2 separate regions of the Homo sapiens genome follow, and region 2 is linked to region 1. Evidence: fine-mapped expression QTL. A gene starts in region 1. The other region holds a variant in brackets. All regions are shown on one strand. Distances are between the middles of the regions. Region 1 holds the start of ACACB (acetyl-CoA carboxylase beta). Region 2 overlaps ACACB (acetyl-CoA carboxylase beta).

Region 1 (12,885 bases):
CTCTAATTAATGACATGCATGTTGAAGTATTCAAGGATAAAGACACTGATATCTGCAATTTACAGGTGACAAATACAGAAAAATGGTAATGGCAGAATCTAATCAGGGGTATATGGGCACCCACTGTAAAATTCTTTCAACTTGTATGTTTAAAAATTTTTTTTTTTTTTTTGAGATGGAGTCTCGCTCTGTCGCCCAGGCTGGAGTGCAGTGGTGCGATCTCGGCTCACTGCAAGCTCCGCCTCCTGGGTTCATGCCATTCTCCTGCCTCAACCTCCTGAGTAGCTGGGACTACAGGCACCTGCCACCACGCCCGGCTAATTTTTTGTATTTTTAGTAGAGACGGGGTTTCACCATGTTAGCCAGGATGGTCTCGATCTCCTGACCTCGTGATCCGCCCACTTTGGCCCCCAAAGTGCTGGGATTACAGGCATGAGCCACTGCACCCAGCTTAAATTTTTTTATAATAAAATGTTGGGGGAATAATATAGGGAAAATGGGTATAGGAAGATGAAACTAGAAGGGCAGAAAGGCAATGGTTATTGAAGCTGGCTGATGAATGCATTGGGGGACCACTGTGCTATTTACTCTGCTTCTGAAGGTGTTAAAAAAAAACAGGTCAACTTTTTTTCCTATACCAAAAAGTTAAAAAGTTCATAAAATACAATGCAAGTACCCACCAGCTGACTGAAACCTGAATATTAATAGCTAATACTTATGAGTACTAATTTGTGCTAGGCTCTGTATTCAGCATCTTTTTTTTTTTTTTTTTTTTTTTTTGAGACAATGTCTGACTCTGGCGCCTAGGCTGGAGTGCAGTGGCACAATCATAGCTCATTGCAGCCTTGAATTCCTGGGCTCAAGCAATCCCCCTCCTCGGCCTCCCAAAGCACTGGGATTACAGGCATGTGCCACCACGCCCAGCGAAACTTTTTATATTTTATACAGACAGGGACTCAAGCAATCCTCCCGCCTTGGCCTCCCAAAGCACTGGGATTACAGGCATGAACCACCATACCTGGCCTATATGAAGCATTTTATAATCATTGTCTCATTCCACCTTGTGAGACCAGTAGCAGGGGAAGCCTCGTTTTATTGATGAGGAAGTTCTGGGTTCGAGAAGTTGAAGTGACGCAAAGTCACTCACCCGGGTAGTAAGCAGATAAACTGAATTTCACCTTTTCAATGATTGCTCACTGCACCCCTTTCCATGGTCTACATGGCCCTGGCAAACCGGCCTCTGCCACACTGACCCCTCTACGTTCCTCTGCACATGCTGCCTGGAATGTTCTGGAATGTTCTTCCCTTCCCTGCCCCCACTTCTGTCCTTTGCATGGTTATCTCTTGCTCTTTTTCTGATGGTTGGCTTCAGTGTCCCCACCTCAAACCCACCCTGATACTCAGTGGTCTTATTCTGTAGGACACGTGCCATTCATCACGTGCTGACCTGACTCTCTGCATTCACCAATGAGTTTATGCCTCTTCTCCACTGGAATAGAAGCTTCCTAAGGGCAAGGAGTGGCTCTGTCTTGCTCTGGGCTCTCCAGCACAGTGCCTAGCACACAGAAGCGTCAGGGTCAGTGAACACTTGCTGGAGGCCTGCACCCAGCTCAGGTGTGTCTGTGCCACCCCCACCCCTGCTGCCTACCTGGGGAATCCTCCTGCTCCACTGAGTCCTTGGGGCTGGGAGTGTCCAGGTGAGGCCCTGGGCACAGGCATCTGCACGGCTGTTGAACCCCTGCTGGCTGCTCCCTCATACTGCTGTATCAGGGGCCACCAGAGAGATGCCATGGAACACCATGCTCTTGCTCTATGCCCCACAGTTCCCTGATCTCTTCCTCCTGGCACTCATCATAGGTTGTAGTTATGTGGGTCATTATTACACATCTACCAGTGTCCCCCACTAGAAGGTAAGATCTGTGAGAGCAGGCAAGGCTTAAAACCCAGAGGGGCACAGATTTATCATCAATTTCTGACTTCATCTCCCCCGACCCCTTCCCCAGTCTATTTGCAACTCTGAAAATAGGGTTCTTTTGTAACTCCAGTATACACTAGGAGGCATATAGTAGTCCCTCAAGGAACCCATAAAAGCATGTTGAATAAGAATGAAAGCTGGCAGGTGTGGTCTCTCATGCCTGTAATCCCAGCACTTTGGGAGGCCTAGGCGGGCAGATCACTTGAGGTCAGGAGTTCGAGACCAGCCTGGCCAACATGGTGAAACCCTGTTTCTACTAAAAATACAAAAATTAGCCGAGTGTGGTGATATGCACCTGTGGTCCCAGCTACTTGGGAGGCTGAGGCAGGAGAATCGCTTGAACCTGGGAGGTGGAGGTTGCAGTTAGCTGAGATCACGCCACTGCACCCCAGCCTGGGCAACAGAGCAAGACTATGTCTCAAAAAAATAAAAAAGAAAGCTGATGTTTGTTGAGCACCTCCTACACACTGAGTCTTATGCTGTGCACTTTGTGTGTGTTATCTCTTTAAATGTTCACAAAAATGATAAGATGAGGCACAGAGAGAAAGTCTGTTGTTCAGAGTCACATCAGTGAGTGGCAGAGCTGGGCCCCGGGCTGGGCCCTCCAGCTCCAGGTGTGCACGTGTGTGGCACACGTGTGTGGGTGTGTTTTCTTCATCCCTTCCCCTACGCCCACCATTGCCTCACTCCAAGGCTGAGCTAGTGCAACAGCCTGTTAGCAGATCTCACTGAATCAATTCTACTTTCTCCCTGTTCAAATTCATCCAGAACCCTGGGAGACAGTGCTCTATTTACACACACACACATACACACACACATGCATGCATACACACATGCACACACACACCCCTTGCCCCCTGCTCAAGAGCTCGAGCCTGTGAACCTCATCCACTCCATGGTCCTGCCTCCCAGGATCCTGCAAGGAGATGAGGAAGGCATGGAATGAAACGGTTCCATGTTTTGCAAGAGGTGGCTATGAATACCAATCCTGAAAGATGGTCCCCACCCTTGCCAAAAAATAACATTTCTAGGGCCAAATCCCAATGTCACATCTTGGAGAGTCCCACTGCATTTAGCATAGTAAAGGCTCTGAGAAGTCCTGCTGTAAACCACAGGCAGCCTGGTGTTTCCCAAACTGATTGGCCCTGGAGGCCTGTTTCCACCTTGCATGGGCAGCTCTCCATATCAGAAGAGCTCCAAAAGCCTCACTTTGTGGGGAGTATGGAAATAAAAGACCGAAGCCTTCCTTATAACACAGCAGAGAAAGCCTTCTAGGTCAGTTGGGAGGGGCATGTCCAACAACTGATTATTCTATAATAGCTAGTATTGAAGTCTGCAGCTGATTTGCTTCTAAATAGAAAGGAGAGTGTGTTCAAGTTGTCCTCTGATATCACCTTCACTCATTATTTAATTTAAAAATATGGAGCTTAATTAGTTCAACAGGAGTGGTGGAAAATCCTTTAATCCTTTTTTTTTTTCTTCTGAGATGGAGTCTCGCTCTGTCGCCCAGGCTAGAGTGCAGTGGCGCGATCTCAGCTTGCTGCAACGTCTGGTTCCCAGTTTCAAGCGATTCTCCTGCCTCAGCCTCCCAGGTAGCTGGGATTACAGGCGCACCACCATAACTGGCTAATTTTTGTATTTTTAGTAGAGACAGGGTTTTGCCATGTTGGTCAGGCTGGCCTTGAACTCCTGACCTCAAGTGATCTGCCTGCCTCAGCCTCCCAAAGTGCTGGGATTATAGGCGTGAGCCACCCAGCCCTGTCTCAAAATCATTTTTTTTTTTTTTTTGAGACAGAGTCTTGCTCTGTTGCCCAGGCTGGAGTGCGGTGGCACCATCTCGGTTCACGGCAAGCTCCACCTCCTGTGTTCAAGTGATTCTCCTACCTCAGCCTCCCAAGTCGCTGGGTTTACAGGCACTAGCCACCACACCCAGCTAATTTTTGTATTTTTAGTAGAGAAAGGGTTTCACCATGTTGGCCAGGTTGGTCTCAAACTCCTGACCTCAAGTGATCTAGCTCCTCAGCCTCCCAAAGTGCTGGGATTACAGGCGTGAGCCACTGTGTCTGGCCTGAAGAGACCTTTTCTATGTGTAGTTGTTTTCTGGGGCCCCAGCAAGGGTCAGAGTGGCTAAGGTATGAGCCCAGAGAGCAGGACTTCTGGAGTACAGCAGACTTGGGTGGAGGCTTTGCCATTTGTTATCTGATTGGCCTGAGCCCATCATGGAAATTCTCTGAACCTTGGTTTCCTGGCCTGTGGAATGGAATAAATAAAATCTCCTTCCTAGGATTGTCCTCAAAATTATGTGAGATCCCATAATTATTATGGCATACCTGGGGTATGCCAACTACCCAATAATCAATACCTTGGTTTCTCTGCTGTGCCCAGCCTGGATTCTCTGATACAAGGATCCCTGGATTCCTGGAATAAATGAACACGGTCTATCTTCCTAGAAAATCACCTTACTCTACGGTCATAAATTTACTATTATCACTGCAAACAGAGAGATCTATTAGGATAGGATGTGAAATGTGCATACATTTTTCCGATCAAATGCAATATTTCTAACTCTGTTTCCTGGTTTCCCTGGGTACAGGTGAACTCTACTTTGAAGTAACAAGTCACTGAATCACAAATTCAGAGGAAGCATGAGAACAAGGTATTCCAGGCCGGGTGCAGTGGCTCATGCCCGTAATCCCAGCACTTTGGGAGGCCAAGGTGAGCAGATCACTTGAGGTCAGGAGTTCGAGACCAGCCTGGCCAACATGGCAAAACCCCATCTCTACTAAAAATACAAAAATTAGCTGGGCGTGGTAGTGCTTGCCTGCAATCCCAGCTACTCGGGAGACTGAGACTGAGGAATTGCTTGAACCTGGGAGGCAGGGGTTGCAGTGAGCTGAGATTGTGCCATCGCACTCCAGCCTGGGTGACAGGACGAGACTCTGTCTCAAAAAAAAAAAAAAAAAAAGAACAAGGTCAAAGTTTCTACTGGGATAAGACTTCAAGGAAACCTCCATTTCAAAAGATTAAAATGTTTATTTCCCCATGAAGACTGGGTATCTCATGTAATGTAATACTCAAATTTCTGTCTCAGACCTAAAGGTGTTGAAAGTATGAGCGAGTTTACACAACACCTGAGCAGGAGCAAATAAAACTCTTAAGAGCTTCTGAAAGAAAGTTACAGATTAGAGATATTTTCATCTCTAAATCACATGAATTAGGATTGGCTGGGTCTTTCCACTTAAAACTTGGAGAAGTCATAAAAAGAAATCTTGTAAAGAACTCCATGTCACTATTAGCAGAAACATGCAATTTATAAAATGATATCTTTGGCCAGGCGCGGTGGCTCATGCCTGTAATCCCAGCACTCTGGGAGGCCGAGGCGGGCGGATCACTTGAGGTCAGGAGATCGAGACCATCCTGGCTAACACAGTGAAACCCTGTCTCTACTAAAAATACAAAAAAAATTAGCCGGGCGTGGTAGTGGGTGCCTGTAGTCCCAGCTACTTGGGAGGCTGAGGCAGGAGAATGGCGTGAACCCAGGAGGCGGAGCTTGCAGTGAGCACTCCATCTCAAATAATAATGATAATAATAATATCTTCACCTTTCAGTTTTTAAATTGCAAGTCCCATGTCCCGGGAATTCCCCGGTCCTGGGCAAAGTGGGATGGTTGGTCACCCAACCTATATGGATGCCCATTGATATTAAAAAATAAAAGTAATCACAATAGACATGAGGGAGAGAGTTGTGTACAGTGTGAGTGTACAGAATAAAAGGTCTGGGGGGTTTATACCAAAATGTGCACAGTGGCTACCTGGAGGAGGAGGGTTAGACAGGAATAACAGCAAGGAGACTTTTGCACGGTGCTGAGTGACTTTTTAACTTGCATATTATTTTGGAATGCATTTTTTCAACATTGAAAGAAAGTCATGTCTTCCTAGAAATATAGGATATAGGACCACTACAAACGCTTTACTCTTAGTCTCCTTTTTTTCTTTTTCTTTTCTTTTTTTTTTTTTTTGAGACAGAGTCTTGCTCTGTCAGTCAGGCTGGAATGCAGTGGCGCAATTTTAGCTCACTGCAACCCCCACCTCCTGGGTTCAAGCGATTCTCCTGCCTCAGCCTCCCAAGTAGCTGGGATTACAGGTGCCCATCACCACATCTGGCTAATTTTTATGTGTTTAGTACAGATGGGGTTTCGCCATGTTGGCCAGGCTGGTCTCGAACTCCTGACCTCAAGTGATCCACCTGCCTCTGCCTCCCAAGGTGCTGGGTGGCATGAGCCACCGTGCCCAGCCTTAGTCTGCTTTAAAAAAAAAAAAAAAAAAAAAAAGAACAACCATTTGAGGAAACAGAAACAGAATACTATTCCTTAAGACAGTAGCTTTGGAGGCAAAAAACAGAATTGTTTATAAAACGTTGTGGAACTTATATGGGAGCATGTCCAGGGATCCACACCACCATTTATAGAAGCAAAGAAAGGCCCTTCTCTTTCATCTGCGTTACATTTCGAGCTCTTCTGATTAGCTTCCTTCAAACATGACGGGAGTCGTTTTTCCCCGGGGACCCCAAGTGCATGCCTTCAGACAGGGTCTGCTCTCACTATACATTGGGTTCGAATTTACCTGGACGTTGGCAGAATGGTCCGGACCCCGGGGAGGGGCGAGCTGACTTACCACTTTATTCCTGCCGCTTTTCTCTTGCCATGTCCTCCCCACCGTGCATTCAGGGTTACATTTTCCAGGTTCCTTGTTTGCTGAGGGCCTGAATCTAAGCCTGCTAGCTGCTTACTCTGGGGACTGCAAATGTCACTTTTAGATTAATCAGCCCCTGCTGTTTAAAAATATCCCTGGAGCACTTAACCTTCAAAGCAGCAACAACCCGGGGCAAAGATGAGAAAGATCCCACGTCAAACCACTTGTGCAGCCCTGGCTACTCCTGGGAGAGTTCTGCTATCTGCCTTTTAATCCCATAACTCGCTTTATTTCATAATTCTTAGCTGTTGAAGCCATGAGGCATCTAAAGTCCATGTTGTCGTAAGCAGTAGGCAGAAAGTCATCTGGGCCCTCCTGTGACATGCTGAAAATTAACTGCCTACAGGTGTTGGTCATTTGAGAAACAAGCCCCCATTGAAAACCGTGAATGGGAAGGTGATCGCTATCAGGTCACCTGGCTTCTCTCCCCTGAAAAGATTTGGCGAAACCCTCTCAAATCACGCCACTTAATGGAATGTTTCCAATTTCTTGTGACTTGGGGATAAAAGAAAAAAACAGCTCCATTGCCACATTCTCATTCAGGGTTGACTGGCTCTTGCTAGGGTTGAGCACAGAAGAGGAAATTCAGCACACGCTGCAGTTACATAGTGTTCTGCAACGTGGGGAGGGCTGGCATGTGGGACAAAGGTCGCCTCCAAGGCCCAGCTGGAGAAGCCCAGCCAACTAGGCAGCAGGAAAGTGGAGACCACATAGGAGCACATTGTGCTCAGGCAACAGGGAAGGTGGAACCCACTTCCTGCCAACAATGATGGCCTTACTAAACAGCAAGTGGAGAAACTGGCGAGAGCGCTGAGCACGGGATCTGTGCAAAATGGTTTAAATGGAAATTGCTGCTGGGGCTGGTGCAGCCTGTTCACAGCTACTTTGTTTCTGGGCTTATTTTGCAATAAGGAACAGTCATTGAATATTGGACTTCTTGGGATTTTCTCCACTGGACTTGGAAGCATGTGCTCTGGAAACCTCAGCATTATCAGCTGTAACCCCACAGCACCAGGTACATGTTACAGGAACCGGGGTGAAGGAATGCAGGTCAAATGCCTGCACAATGCCCGGCCCGAGTCATATGTTCTCTAGCCACAGTAGCCCTTGTGATGGCTCTTAGTCTATTTATTAAGACAATAAAAGAGGTGACTCTCAAACAAACCTATGTTTCCAGGGAGAGCCATCTGTGATTCAAGGACATTTTTATAAAATTCCATTGAAAAAAATTCTTAGGCTTCTAACTTCATGAAAAAAAAATTCTTTCCCAGTGATTCCAAATAATCATGATCTAGGCAGGGTGTTGACAGTGGCAGGACTATTAGGCTTTGAAATCAAGCTGATGTGGGTTTGAATCCTCCCTCCATTAGCCATGACTTTGAGCAAATGGCTGAGCTTCAGTGTCCTCATCAACTACTTCACCATATGGGTGAGAAAATGAAATGATTTATATTGAGTTTCTGGCACAGGGGCTTGCTCATGACAAGCACTTAATATCTTTCTAATGAAATTCATTACTTGCAAAAAGACTAGACATACCCACACATACAGGTGAAGAACTCTGCAGTGATTCAGTTCTCCCTAGACACTATCTCTTTAAGACACAGGTATTTTCCAGAATATAATTGGAAGGCTTGAAACCAAAGTTATTCATAAACTCTTTCCATCAAACACAAGAACGGTAATAGAAATATATTTCTTCAAACAGCTGTTAGTTTCAGAAAGTCACAGGTATCAAGTTACATTTTTTGTTTTGTTTTGTTTTGTTTTAGAAATAGGATCTTGCTCTGTTGCCCAGGCTGGATGGAGTGCAGTGGCATGATCATAGCTCACTGCAGCCTCGAACTCCTGGGCTCAAATGATCCTCCTGCCTCAGCTTCCCAAGTAGCTAGAACTACAGGCACACACCACCCCTGGCTAATTAAAAAAAAAAAAATTTTTTTTTTTTAAAGACAAGGTCTCATTATGTTGCCCAAGTTGGTCTTGAACTCCTGGCCTAAAGCGATCTTCTTGCCTTGCCTCCTAAAGCACTGGGATTACAGGTATGAGCCACTGTACCTGGCCCAAAAAAAATTATTAAGTGACCACATGGTCTAACAAAACAAGGCACCTGGAAAGAAATCACCAGTCCTGCTGCAAACCGGACCCTCTGTGAGAATTCACATGCCTTCCCCCACCAATTAAATCAGAATTTCCAGGGATGGGGTCTGGCTTTGCATGTTTTAGCTTCTCTAGGCTGGAGGAGCACTAGCTTCTTGTTGGAAGGCTCCCTACCTTCCTCTCCCACACCCTCACCCCAAACATCATTAAGAGAGACAAAAGAACATGCTATATACACAACTAACAAGCAGAGAACATAAATTATTGATCTCCTGGTCTGCTCCGCTCACCAATATTTATATTTCCAAGCATATTTCAAAAACTTAAAAACTGGTTCCCTAGCCTGGGCAACTTAGCAAGACCCCATTTCTATTAAAAACTTAGCCAGGTATGGTGGTGCATACCAGTGGTCCCAGCTGCTCAGGAGGCTGAGGCAGGAGGATCACCTGAACCCAGGAAGTTGAGGCTGCAGTGAGCCATGACTGAGTCACTGTACTCCATCTTAAGAAACAGAGTGAGACTCTATCGCAAAAAAAAGAAAAAAAAATTGGTTCCCATTGACTTAAACTACAAAGGAACTTCCTGTTGTCAGACCCAAATTACAGTGTCAGAAGGACTCTAAACAAGGAGGCCATCTCCAGCAGAGGAATGTTCTAGCTTTCCTCAGCTTGAGTCAGCACAAGTCAGCATGTGAGGTCTTTTCAAAGTAACCCAGAGCACCTCCCTGCAACCTGTTTTTCCTTGCAAATCTTGAAGGTTTGGCAAGGATGAAAAGCCAACACCACACGCATACGCCAAAAAGTTTGCTTCTCCACCAAACATACTTGCGAAGACTTTTATATGAGAAGCAAACTGAAGCAGAAAGTGAATTTGAACAGAGATGTATTATCTAATAATGCAAGCATACTAGCAACATGCTAAAGTCTATCTTTAAAAAATGCAAACAATTTATAGTCCCTGACCTTCCCCTGCTGGATGTAGATCAAAAGCAGGCAGTGACTTTCACACAATTAATTATTTTATAACTGGACGTTTCCAGTACAACATTTGCTAATAACTGACTTCCTTGTGTTACCAATTCCAAAAGCTGTCAGAGATCTCCCTAACTCACCTGAAAAGGGAGGAAACAGGAATCATTAGGCCAGGTTCTCAGAAGCCTCCCAAACCTTGCCACGTGGAACCATCCAGCTCCACATCCAGCATGTGGGTCCTGCCTTTGCAGAGGCAGGCTCCTCAGTGTTGAATGCTCTTGTTCCTCTTTGTGGCCTGGAAAGTTCAATATCCACTCAGACATTCTCTCCACTGGGAAATGTCTTCTTTCCTGGGCTGACCCAGCCGTTGCTGCCTTTTTGTTCCCACCGCACTGACAGTGAGTACACACAGGGGTCTGCAGACTGTGGTTCCAGATGCCTGTTTTCCAATAGCTCCCAAGCTAGGAGTGGTTTTTACATTTGTTAAATGCTTAGGAAAAAAAAAGATTTCGTGACACATGAAAATCATATTAAAATCTAATTTCAGTGTCCATAAATAATAAAGTTTTATTGGAACACAGCCTCGCCCGTTCCTGTACGTTTTGCCCACGGCTGCTTTCTCTGCAGTGAGTTGTTGAGCAGTTCCCACGGAGAACGGGTAACTGCAAACCCTCAAATATTTACCACCTGACCCTTCACAGAAAGTTTGCCAACCGCTGACCTAAAAGGCTAAGACTGCCTTTTATGCATCTTTGCATACTGAGTGCAGGAATATAGCAGACTTGACACATGAAAAAAGCAACTACCACATAGCTAAGAGTTCATCAAAATGAGTTGCCTGGTTGGTTTTTTTTTTTTTTTTTTTTTGAGACGGAGTTTTGCTCTTATGCTCTTGTTGCCCAGTCTGGAGTGCAATGGTGCGATCGCCCGGGTTCAAGTGATTCTCCTGCCTCAGCCTCCCAAGTAGCTGGGATTACAGGCATGTGCCACCACGCCTGGCTAATTTTGTATTTTTAGTGGAGACAGGGTTTCTCCATGCTGGTCAGGCTGGTCTTGAACTCCCGACCTCAGGTGATCCACCCACCTCGGCCACCCAAAGTGCTGGGATTACAGGCGTGAGCCCCCACACCTGGCTGAGTTGCCTAGTTTCTAAAGAATCAGTAATTAAATTTTTGGAGGGTCATGGACCCAGAAGCTGCTCTGTGTACTGTTTAAAGTGTCACCACATGACTAAAGTTCAATATATACACATATATATTGAATATATATACATATATACATACATATATATTGAATATACATACATATATATTGAACTTATATACATATATATTCAATATACGTATATTGAACTTTTGTATATATTATATAGAAATGTATGTATATATATTTAAAATATACATTTTATATTTTAAAATATAAAATAATTGTGTTTTGAATTATTCCTGGAAACTTGGAGCTCACTGCTCCCCCTACCGGCAGTGCTGCACCGGGAGAGAGAGAAGTGTGAAAAGCTAACTGGTGTAAGCACAATTATCCCTTCACTTCTTCCTTGGCTAAGGGAGTCCACTGTTGTTTAGAGGAAGATCCCAAAGTTACCAGAGGGCAAATCGACCATGCATCCTCCTCCCGTGAAAGCCAGCTTGCTGACCACAAAATGTAGAATGATAAACCCTTCCCTACATAGATAAGGAAAGGAAGCAGTATTTTCAAGCAAACTCTGGTCTCCCTCCCTGCCCTTTTAAGAAATGCATTTGCTAGTCTCGAGGTTCTGGCTGGATGCATTCTTTCTTGCCCATTTAGTTAAAAGTTTCTCTACTAAAAGTACAAAAATTAGCCGGGCGTGGTAGTGCATGCTCGTAATCCCAGCTACTTGGGAGGCTGAGGTGGGAGGATTGCTTGACCCCTGGAGGCAGAGGTTGCAGTGAGCCGAGATCGCGCCACTGTACTTCAGCCTGAGCGACAGAGTGAGACTCGCTCAAAAAAAAAAAAAGAAAAAGAAAGAAAGAAAAAAAAACACAATTGTGGCTTCTTTCTTCGGACACTGGGGGATCCCACAGATCATCCTGACAGCCCCCACTACCTGAGCCTGGGCTGCGGGCCAGTGCGTCATCAGGGAGTCTTCCTGGAGCCCTGGCCTCACTTCCGAGTTCCAGATGTCTCGGAGTCTAGAAACACTGGCTGAGCGGGGGATGCAGGCGGCTCCCCTCCAACGTCACAGGGCTTGGCAGAACGTAGCCACGACGGGCACGCCATGTTCCCCGAAGAAATGCCTTCCTCAGGCCGTTAGTTACCCCTCTGGGGTCTCAGCTGGCAGCCGGTGCTCCACGGTGCTCGGAGTTGGGGCGCTGCTCCAGGCCGGGGGTTGGGCCCAGCGCTCACCGCAGCCAGGGGAGGGTTGGGCCGTTCCACTGAGCGGCAGGGCGGGGAGGAGGGGCAAGGGCGGCCCCTCCTGCAGACGGTGGTTGCTATGGGAACCCTGGGAGGCGCCAAGGGAAAGGGCAGCCCAAGGACGTCCATGGATGCCCTGGCCTGGACGCACAAAGGACACTTGCACAAAACAAACTTTTAACAAACTTTTATTAACAAACCTCGCGTAGAGCCAACTCTAACCCGACTAACAGCAAAAACAGCATTGCTAACAAGATCAAGGATGGAGGTGCAGACCCAATAAAGACCGTCTCTTAAAAAAAGGACTGGGAAAAATATATATATATATATCTGCATGAGTACTTCTTAAAAAACTAAAACTTTCCAGTGTTGCAGGAAAAAATATCCCAAAGTGATTTCAGTCGGTTAAAAAAAACAGTACTTGGCAGTCTGTGCTGCCTTAAAAACCCCAACTGGACATAACCCTAGGAGAAAATCACCCCACCCCATAAAGACAAAATTCCCTTTTCTCCTCTTCCTTGTTCAAATTCCACTGCTTATTCCACCAACACCCAAGGAATAACAAGACCCAGCTTACTTCTCTCGGTCTCTTATCTGATAAAGCTCACAGCAATCTTAACCTCTACTACAATCAGGAAATTGAGCCCTAATTTCTGGGCCAGATTCTGGAAAGTTGCAAAACATCCTTATGCTGCGA
Region 2 (9,997 bases), 42 kb before region 1:
ATCCCAGCTACTTGGGAGACTGAGGCAGGAGAATTGCTTGAACCCAGAGAATGGAGGTTGCAGTAAGCCGAGATCGCGCCACTGGACTCCAGCCTGGGCGACAGAGTGAGACTCTATCTCAAACAAAAAGAAATTTCAGGAAGGAAAACCTTCTTCAAGTTTTAGAAGCCTTGTGCCATTGTGTTGTGGCTTCCAAGGCTGCTAGAACAAGAGTAATTCTGATCCTTGATCCTTTGTAGGTGACCTGTTTTTTCATATCCAGATGCTTATAGGAGCGTCCCTCTGTCCCCAGAACTCTATGATTTCACAGTGATGAGCTCAAGTATGTGTCTGCTTCCACCAATGAGGCTGCACATCTCTCAGGCCCTCTCAATCTGGAAACTTCCATCCTGGGAATTTGTCTTCAAATACTTCCTTGATGGGCTGAACATGGTGGCTTACGCCTGTGATCCCAGCACTTTTGGAAGCTGAAGTGGGAAGATCACTTAAGGTCAGGAGTTAGAGACCAGCTTGGCCAACATGGTGAAACCCCGTCTCTACTAAAAATACAAAAATTAGCCGGGCATGGTGGTGTGCATCTGTAATCCCAGCTACTTGAGAGGCTGAAGCAGGAGAATCACTTGAACCCAGGAGGCGGATGTTGTAGTGAGCCAAGATTGTGCCACTGCGCTCCAGCCTGGGCAATAGAGTGAGACTCCATCTCAAACAACAACAACAACAACAAGAAACAAATACTTCCTTGATGATGTCCTTGCCTCTTTTTTTCTCTATTTTTTCCCGAAGTCCTATTATCTGGATGTTGAAATTCCTACACTGGCCTACTGGTTTATGCATTTTTCCCCTCTCCTATTCTCTCTCTTCTTCTACTTGCTGGTTGATTTTTCTCAGCCTCATCTTCTAAACATTCAGTGGAGTTCTTCATTTCTGCTATCATGTTTTTGATGTCTACGAGCCTGTTTTTGGCCTACAAATGTTCCCTTTGTTATAGCATCCTCTTCCTATGAGTGCAACATCCTGTCTGACCTCAACGATGATATTAATGAGAGCTTTTTAAACTTCTCTTCTCCAGCGTGGTTTCTGTTTCTTCCAAGCTTCCTGTGTCTACTGGTTTGGACCTTGACTTACATATGAGAAACTGGACCTCAGGGCCGGGTGCAGTGGCTCACGCCTGTAATCCCAGCACTATGGGAGGCCGAGGCAGGTGAATCACCTGAGTTCAGGAGTTTGAGAGCAGCATGGACAACATGGTGAAACCCCATCTCTACTAAAAATACAAAAAATTAGCCGGGCTTGGTGGCGTGCACCTGTAATCCCCCCTACATGGGAGGCTGAGGCAGGAGAATCGCTTGAACCTGAGAGGCGGAGGTTGCAGTGAGCTGAGATTGTGCCATTACACTCCAGCCTGGGCAACAAGAGCAAAACTCCATCTCAAAAAAGAAAAAGAAAAAGAAACTGAACCCAAATGTCAGGGAAGCCTTGGTTCCAACCTTGTGACTATGAGTGAGAACAGAATTTCTGAGACTGTGGTGGACCTGGTTGACCCTGAGCTCAATGTAGGGTGAGGTAGGAGTGCGTTGGGGATCCCCTGAGTCAGTATCTTTGTGTCTTTCTCTCTCGCTGGCCAGATTCCCCAGGGAGAAGTTTTCCAGTCTTCTGCCTGGACAGTAAAGGTCAGCCTGGAGCCCCGGGGGGAACGGGGAAGTTCTAAGAATTCAGCACCTATTCAGACCCTTATCTTCCTATTTGGGATACAGGCCCCATGCCCTCAACTGTGCCTGTCGATCCCCTCTCCCAAGACCCTCTATATGTACCTTTGAACTGCTGCCTTCTGTTGGGGTCGAAGTGGACAGCCCCTGCCGCAGGAGACAGGGGAGGGGACCTGGGAGTCTTCCACCCTGTCCTTCTCATTTTGGTACCCTCCTTACCCCTCAGCTCCAGGGGCATCCCTTGCTGCCAGACACTATGCCTTTTGGGGGTTCTGTGGTACAGATGGCCAGGGGTCCCCAACTTTCCTCACTGCTCCATTAGGACTCAGCCTTAAGCCAGTGACCACTCATTCATCTGCTTTCTAGCTTCTAAAAGGTTAATGCTACGCTGGGCACGGTGGCTCACGCCTGTAATCCCAGCACTTTGGGAGGCGAAGATGGGCAGATAACTTGAGGGCAAGAGTTTGAGACCAGCCTGGCCAACATGATGAAACCCCATCCCAACTAAAAAAACACAAAAAGTAGCTGGGCATGGTGGCGCACGCCTGTAGTCTCAGCTACTGGGGAGGCTGAGGCACAAAAATCACTTGAACCCGGGAGGCAGAGGTTGCAGTGAGCTGAGATCACACCACTGCACTCCAGCCTGGGCAACAGAGTGAAACTCTACCTAAAAAAAAAAAAAAAGAGAACTTCATTTATTTACAAAAAAAGGTAGATGCAACCCAAGGGACATCATTTGTAGACAGACCCCTGATCTGGGGGAAAAAAATGCTAAAGTATTAAGAGCCGTTATCTCTTTGCTATATTTTAAAAAATGTTCTGCAATGATGTGTTATTTTCAATAAGAAAAAAGCTATTAATTTTGTAAGAGGAACACCCATGTATACATGTAGGTATACACACACACACACACCACACACACACATACACACAAAAGAATACTACTGAGCCATAAAAAATTATATATATATATACACCAAATTTTCTGTATCTAGTCATCTGTTGGTGGACACTTAGGTTGATTCCATATCTTTGCTACTGTGAATAGTGCTGTGATAACTATACAAGTACAGGTGTCTTTTGATATAATTATTTCTTTATTTTATTTTATTTTATTTTTCTGAGACTGCGTCTCACTCTGTCGCCCAGGCTGGAGAGCAGTGGCATAATCTCGGCTCTCTGCAACCTCCACCTCCCAGGTTCAAGCAATTTTCCTCCCTCAGCCTCCCGAGCAACTAGGGTTACAGGTGCCCGCCACCATGTCCGGCTAAATTTTGTATTTTTAGTAGAGACGGGGTTTTACACGTTGGCCAGAGTGGTCTTGAACTCCTGACCTCAAGTGATCTGCCTGCCTCAGCCTCCCAAAGTGCTGGGATTACAGGCGTGAGACCCCACAACTGGACTCCTTGCTAATTTTATTTATTGTTTTCAACCAATCATGTTAAGATCCTCCCAATGAAAAGCGAATCTGACTGAGTGATTTCTTTTCCTTTGTGTACATACCCAGTAGTGGGATTGCTGGAGAGACTGGCAGATCTATTTTAGTTCCTTGAGAACTCTCCAAACTGTTTTCCACAGAGGTTGTACTAATCGACATTCCCACACACAGCCGCACCCCTCATTCTGTCCACGACCTTCCCTGACTGGCTGGCTTGATGGTTCAGCTTCAGAAAGTCTGAGACATCCCATTTCTACACACACAAACATTAAAACTCTAGCAATTTGACCTAAAGCACAACAAAGAAAAACTTCATTTGTGGCCTAGGGGGCAAAAAAACCATTCTTGGCCACCATGTTGATTTCGAAACTGGTGACAGAGCCCCTCCATCAGGCAGGCCACAAGCCCATTACCGCAGGCTAGGCAAGCGAACACACAAAGCTGCCGGACTGGCCTTGTTTCAGGCCCAATCTCCAGGCAAGTGGCTATTTTAATTCTTTTTGATAAAGCTGGAAGCCAACCAACATTGGCTCTAGAGAGCTGACCTTCGGCCAGCATTTGCTTCCACTGAAGGAGGATCATCCTAAGTGCCATTGTCCAGTGAGAAGCCCTGTCCTTATACAGCACGGCAAGGGTGAGAGCTGAAATGTTTCAAGGTGACTTTGGAAATGACTTCAGGTACAATCAACAGCAGAGGTGTCAGCCAAACACCAAATGCAGTCAGCTGCCGGAGCACAAGACCAGGCAGAATAGTATCAGGAATGGAGGAAATAAACATTCTCGGCTGCCCACTATGGACTGGGCACAGGGGGCCTCTCAGTGAATCTCCACAGCCCTGTATGGAGGAGTCTGTCATCTCCAGGTTCACGATGAGGAAACCGAGGTTCAGAGAGGACCATTTACCTCCAGTTTCACAGCTGGCAAGTGGCAGAGCCCCGTTTCAAATCCAACTCTAGCTGACCTCAGAATCTAACTTCTAGGCAGAAAGACAATCTGAGATAAATGGAAGCCCCTCTATTAACTGGACTTTTAAAACATGCATTACACATATGGCCTCTTATATTCCTCTCAAATAAGAGACAAACATGTATAATGCTGAGGTTTTTTGTTTGGTTGGTTGGTTTTTTTTTTTTTTTTGAGACAGAGTCTAGCTCTGTCACCCAGGCTGGAGTGAAGTGGCACCATCTCGGCTCACTGCAACCTCTGCCTCCCAGATTCAAGCGATTCTCCTGTCTCAGCCTCCCGAGTAGCTGGGACTATAGGTGCCTGCCACCATGCCTGGCTAATTTTTGTATTTTTAGTAGAAATGGGGTTTCACTATGTTGGCCAGGCTGGTCTCGAACTCCTGACCTCAGGTGATCTGCCCACCTTGGCCTCCCAAAGTGCTGGGATTACAGGGGTGAGCCACCGCGCCCAGCCCTGAGTGCTTAACTGGGGGAAATTTTGCTCCCCGGGGAGCAATACCTGGAGACATCTTTGATTGTCACAACTTGGGGGATGCGCTACTGGCATCTAGTGGGTGGAGACCAGGGATGCTGCTCAACACCCTGCAATGCACAGGACAGCCCCACAAAGAACTGGACAGCCCCAAGTGTCAACAGAGCCGCAGTTTAGAAACTCTGGTAGACTGCGGCCATCCTCCTAGGCTTTGAAGCCAGAATCTACCGCTTATAACCTGTGTAATCCTGGGAAAGTTACTTCAATACTCCCTGCCTCAGTTTCCTCACATGATGGAATTAACAGTTTATCCCTGGACCTAGCCAAAGTAAACAGCTTGCAACACTTTAGCTACCATGTACGTCTGCAGGATAGCATTACAGGAGCCCAGGCTGGGCCATTAGGCTAGGGCCCCGGCATTAATCAGACCTTCAATTTCTTCCCTCTCTTTTCTTCTATAAAATAGAGATGGTAACGGCTACCCGCACTGCTAAGAGCTGATTCTGAGCCAGGCAATTCTGTAATTACAACTACTTCCAAACAAGAAAGCAAGAAAGAACACTGTGTAGCCCAGTAAAGGTTGATATCGTTCAAACAGCACAAAACCACGCTCTCCAGAAATGGACCCTTGGAAATTTCTCAAGCCACCTGCCCCATCAGTACCCCCTGGGATGACTACCTTGGCTAGGCCAGGGGTGAGTGGGCAAACTAGGACCCATGGGTCAAATCCACTCGGCCACCTGTTTTTGTATCTCCCACAGGCTAAGAGCGGTTTTAACTTTTTAGATTGTTTTTTGTTTTGTTTCGTTTGTTTCGAAAGGGAGTCTTGCTCTGTCGCCCAGGCTGGAGTGCAGCGGTGTGATCTCAGCTCACTGCTACCTCCACCTCTCAGGTTCAAGTGATTCTCCTGCCTCAGCCTCCCGAGTAGCTGGGACTACAGATGTGTGCTACCACGCTCTGCTAATTTTTGTATTTTTATTAGAGACAGGGTTTTACCATGTTGGCCAGGCTGGTCTTGAACTCCTGACCTCAGGGCGATCTGCCCACCTTGGCCTCCCAAAGTGCTGGGACCACAAGTGTGAGCCACCGCACCCAGCCTTATTTGTTTTTTATAGAGACAGGGTCTCCCTCTGTTGCCAGGACTACAGTGCAGTGGTGCAAAAATAGTTCACTGCAGCCTCAAACTCCTGGGCTCAAGTGATCCTCCCACCTCAGCCTCCTGAGTAGCTGGGACTGCAGGTGTGCACCACCATGCCCAACTAATTGGTTTATTTTTGTAGAGACGGGGTTTCATCATGTTGCCCAGACTGGTCTCAAACTCCTCAAGCAACCCTCCTGTCTTGGTCTTCTAAAGTGCTGGGACTATAGACATAAGCCACCATGCCCAGCCAACATTTTTAAGTCATCGAAAAAAAAAAAAAAATCAAAAGAATCCTGTTTTGTGACACATAAAAATTATATGAACTTTGAATTTCCCCATCTATAAATAATGTCTGATTGAAACACAGCCAGGCCTGTTCAATTACATAACTATGGCTTCTGGTGCAGGAAACAGCAGAGTTGAGTAGTTA[C/T]AACAGAGACCACATGGCCACAAAGCCAAAAATATTTACTGTCTGGCCGTTTATAATAGCAGTCTGCTGACCCCAAGCTAGGCACGAGTTTTCAACCCTGACATGAAAAACTTTATAAGATTCTGATGTCGGGGTCCCATCAGCATGTCTAGGGGGTAGAGGTGGGGTCCCCGGCATCCAGATTTTTCAAAAATCTCCCCACCAGGAAATTCTAATGTGTAGCCAAGAGTGAAAACCCCTGATAGGTCTACAGCCAATATTTGCATGCAGGCAGCTGGCCTTTCAGAGCAGAATTGCATGGCAGTGAAATGGGACTCATTAAAAAACAACTTCTGCCTCCTCATCCCCAACTTTATTTCAAGCCCTTCTGCACTCTGATCCACAATCATTTCTCTACTCTCTGAACTGTGACCCCGTTCTCATGCCATGAAAAATCAGTCATCATTTGCGACCTCACCTTCTCAGGAGTTCTGGCTTCTTAGATGGCCCGAGCCTTCAGCACAAGATCCCAAATGCCTCCCAACTCCAGAGGGCTCTTTCATAACCGAACTCTGTCTTTACTTATTAGTTTTCATCAATGTTTGTGCTGACCCAGGGCAGTACTCAAGACCAGCGACTTCCACACAGAGTCTCAACGGACCAAGAAAGAGCCGGGCATGGTGGCTCATGCCTGTAATCCCAGCACTTTGGGAAGCTGAGTTGTGAGGATTGCTTAGCTCAAGAGTTCAAGACCAGCCTGGGAAACATGGTGAAACCCTGTCTCTCTAAAAAATACAAAAATTAGCTGGGTGTGGTGGCGCATGCCTGTGGTCCCACTACTTGGAAGGCTGAGGTGAGAGGACTGCTTGAGCCCGGAGGCTGAGGCTGTAATGAGCCATGATCATGCCACTGTCTGGGCAACAGAGCAAGACCCTGTCTGTAATAATAATAATAATAATAATAATAACAACTCTAGAAAGGCCTATGAGGGCTAGTCCCTTGGACAGATGTGGAAACTGAGGTTCCAAGGCTTGATGGTACCTGCTCCAGAAGATCACACAGCTTGGTGGCAAAGTTAGATCGTCCAAATCCATCTTTTTAGCCACTCTAAGCTAAGAGAGGAACAATGTAGTCCCCCAACAAAGTATGTCCATATTATTATAAATAGGGGGACCCCACGTCCTGGACTTGCTGGGACAATTCCAAATTTGTGTGAGGTTTTTCTTTTTTTCCATTAAAGTGGTTTGTGAAATGGGTACAACACTCTCCACTTAGTGCCCCCACAGTGGTATTTTGAAGATGGCATGAGACCACACCTACAAAGCACTTGGCCTGGCATACTGAAAGCACCCCATGAGTGGTAGTGGCTATTACTGTTGCACCCATCAGCCTCGAATTGGAGTTACTGAGAAGACATCTGCCTTCCACAATGGAACCGAAGTTCCTGGAGGGCGGAGGTCACGGTTTCCAACCATTTTTGCGACCCTTCCTGCTACCAGTTGCAGGCCTTATGCATGGGAGGTGTGCATGAATGTTTATGGACCAGGTAAACATATCCTAAGAAAATAAAGGATGGAGGCAGAGATTCAGCTACAGGGGTATTCCTCACTGTGCTGTTGATAATAGCCCCCCCCCAAAAAAAAAAAAAAAAACAGAGAGAAACAGCCTGAATATCCGCTACTTATAGGGGATTACTTATACTTTTTTTTTAAGAGACAGGGTCTTGCTCTGTTGCCCAGGCTGGAGTGCAATAGCACAACCATTGCTCACTACAGCCTCGATCTCCCAGGCTCAAGCAATCCTCTTCCCTTAGTCTTTCCAGTAGCTGAAACTCCAGGCATGCATCACCATCCTCAGCTAATTTTTTTTTAAGTAGAGATGGGGGTCTCACTATGTTGCCCAAGCTGGTCTCGAACTCCCGAGTTCAAGCAGTTCTCCTGCCTTGGCCTCCCAAAGCGCTAGGATTACAGGCATGAGCCACCACACCTGGGCACATTTTTTTTCAGAGATGGGGTCTTGCTATGTTGCCCAGGCTAGAGTGCAGTGGCTGTTCACAGGAACGATCATAGCACACTGCAGCCTCCAACTCCTGGGCAAAAGCATCCTCCCTCCTCAGCCTCCTGAGTATTTGGGACTACAGGCTTGCACCACCCTGCCTGGCGAGGATTATTCATACATTTTAAGGTGCACCCATTTAAAGGAACACTATGAATCCAGTAAAAGCATGTTGTAGGCAGGGATTGGCAAACATTGTCTGTCAAGGGTCAGGCAGTAAGTACTTTAGATCTGGTCAGTCTCTGTCCCACCACTCAAATCCTCCAGTGAGGCACAAAAGCAGCCATGAACTAGGCATAAATCATAAATCGATGAGCAGGCTGCAGTCCAATAAAACTTTTTTCGTAGACACTGAAATTTGAATTTCATGTAATTTTCACGTGTCACAAAACAATCTTCTTTTGATTTTTTTTTCAATCACTTAAACATGAAAAAACCATTCTCTGCTTGCAGGCCATCCCAAAACAGGCAGTGGGTCATAGTTTGCCAAGCCCAGTGGTAGAAAAATACTTAATGTTGAATGAAAAAGTGAGTTACAGAACGTTCTGCATGATTCAAGTTTATAAATTAAAACATATCTGCACCGGAAAAAAAAAAAAGCTGAAGAATATACAACTGTTAACAAACATCACAGGGGTGGAATTATGGGTGATTTTTGTTCCTCTTTTTTGCTTATCTATAATTTTCTGAATTGTCAACAACAGACACACCATCAATTTGGTAATTCTTTTTAAGTGCAATAAAATGAGGACAAAAAAGGAAAGAAACAAAACCAAGTAGGTAGAGCTACAAAGCACTCAGGCACTGAGATGCCTACGCTCATCTGCTCAGAAAATGACCCTCAATGAGAGCCTGCTCAAGTTCACGTCGATTTGCCCAGGCTTCAGCTTCAAAAGAGACCTGCCTTCCACAACCATCAGCTTCTGGAGGCGAAGGAGAGAAAGCGGGGAAGGCGTGCCCCTGCGCAAGGGCTGATCTTTAGGCACCTGTGTGCTCCGAAGCGACCTCCTCCAAGCAACGTCACCCCCAACGTCCAGCCTCCTTCCTCCCCTCCCGCCAAGGCCAGCTAGAGTTTCCAAGGCGGGCATCATCTCCCCAGCAGCCAACTCAAGCCCGTGTTTCTTTGGATGGGGGTGGGGGTAAAGGGGGCGGTGCTAAGAGGACACACAGCTTGACTTCAAGGGGAAGGAAGACTGCGTAAGTTTGTAAAAGATCATGGTCATTACAATTGCAGGCTTACTTACTTTACTTCGCGATCAGGGAAACAGATCTTGCACTTGGCAGGACTCATGTTGACCACCCCGCAGGCCAATCCCACCGGGCTCCCGCAGGGGTGCAGAGCATGCACCCCTTAACCGCCTGAAGCCGACCCGAGGCCCGGGACCCAGCAGGACAGCCAGGTCGCGACCCGGAGGCCGAGATGCAGTCCTAGAGCGCCGCGGGCGGGGTTCTGCTGCAGCCGGCGGGCGCCCAACTTCGCGCTGCGCTTGCTCCATCCCGAAATGCACCCTGCGCGCCAGAGTCCCGGGCCATCGCGCCCGCCTAGGCCCCACCCAGGCCCCGCCCCCACACCGACCCCGCCCCAGGAGGGCCCCGCCTTCCGGACGGAGCCCCGCCCCCGGGCCGGCCTACCTCCGACCCGCCGCTGAGCTTCGGCAGCCGAAATGAGCTGCGGAGATATATATTTTTAAAGCCTCTCTTCTGCTTTGCTCCCCAATATGGGACACCCCTACATATTGGCAGCAATTGATATGCTTGAATACACACACGATAGGGAAGCGGTGGAAAATATGGGAAATTTAAAATGTGAG

Evidence for each region. PIP is the estimated chance that this variant, and not a neighbour inherited with it, causes the effect.
Region 2: its variant is fine-mapped to the expression of ACACB in whole blood (INTERVAL, PIP above 0.99).

What each region holds. Positions count from the first base shown.
Region 1 is chr12:109,110,468-109,123,352 of GRCh38, reverse strand. It overlaps ACACB (acetyl-CoA carboxylase beta), which reads right to left and starts at 6,766. Exons shown (of 53, transcript NM_001093.4): 1 at 6,649-6,766. It overlaps LOC105369974 (a long non-coding RNA gene), which reads left to right. Exons shown (of 3, transcript XR_945332.3): 3 at 4,569-4,699. UNG (uracil DNA glycosylase) reads right to left here. Exons shown (of 7, transcript NM_080911.3): 7 at 12,361-12,885. RefSeq lists an enhancer at 11,974-12,524.
Region 2 is chr12:109,154,374-109,164,370 of GRCh38, reverse strand. All of the region lies in intron 2 of ACACB (acetyl-CoA carboxylase beta), which reads right to left. Among named protein-coding and RNA genes, the nearest start is that of ACACB, 43 kb to the right of the region's middle. RefSeq lists a silencer at 9,717-9,876. The variant C/T (reference allele first, on the strand shown) is at 6,153.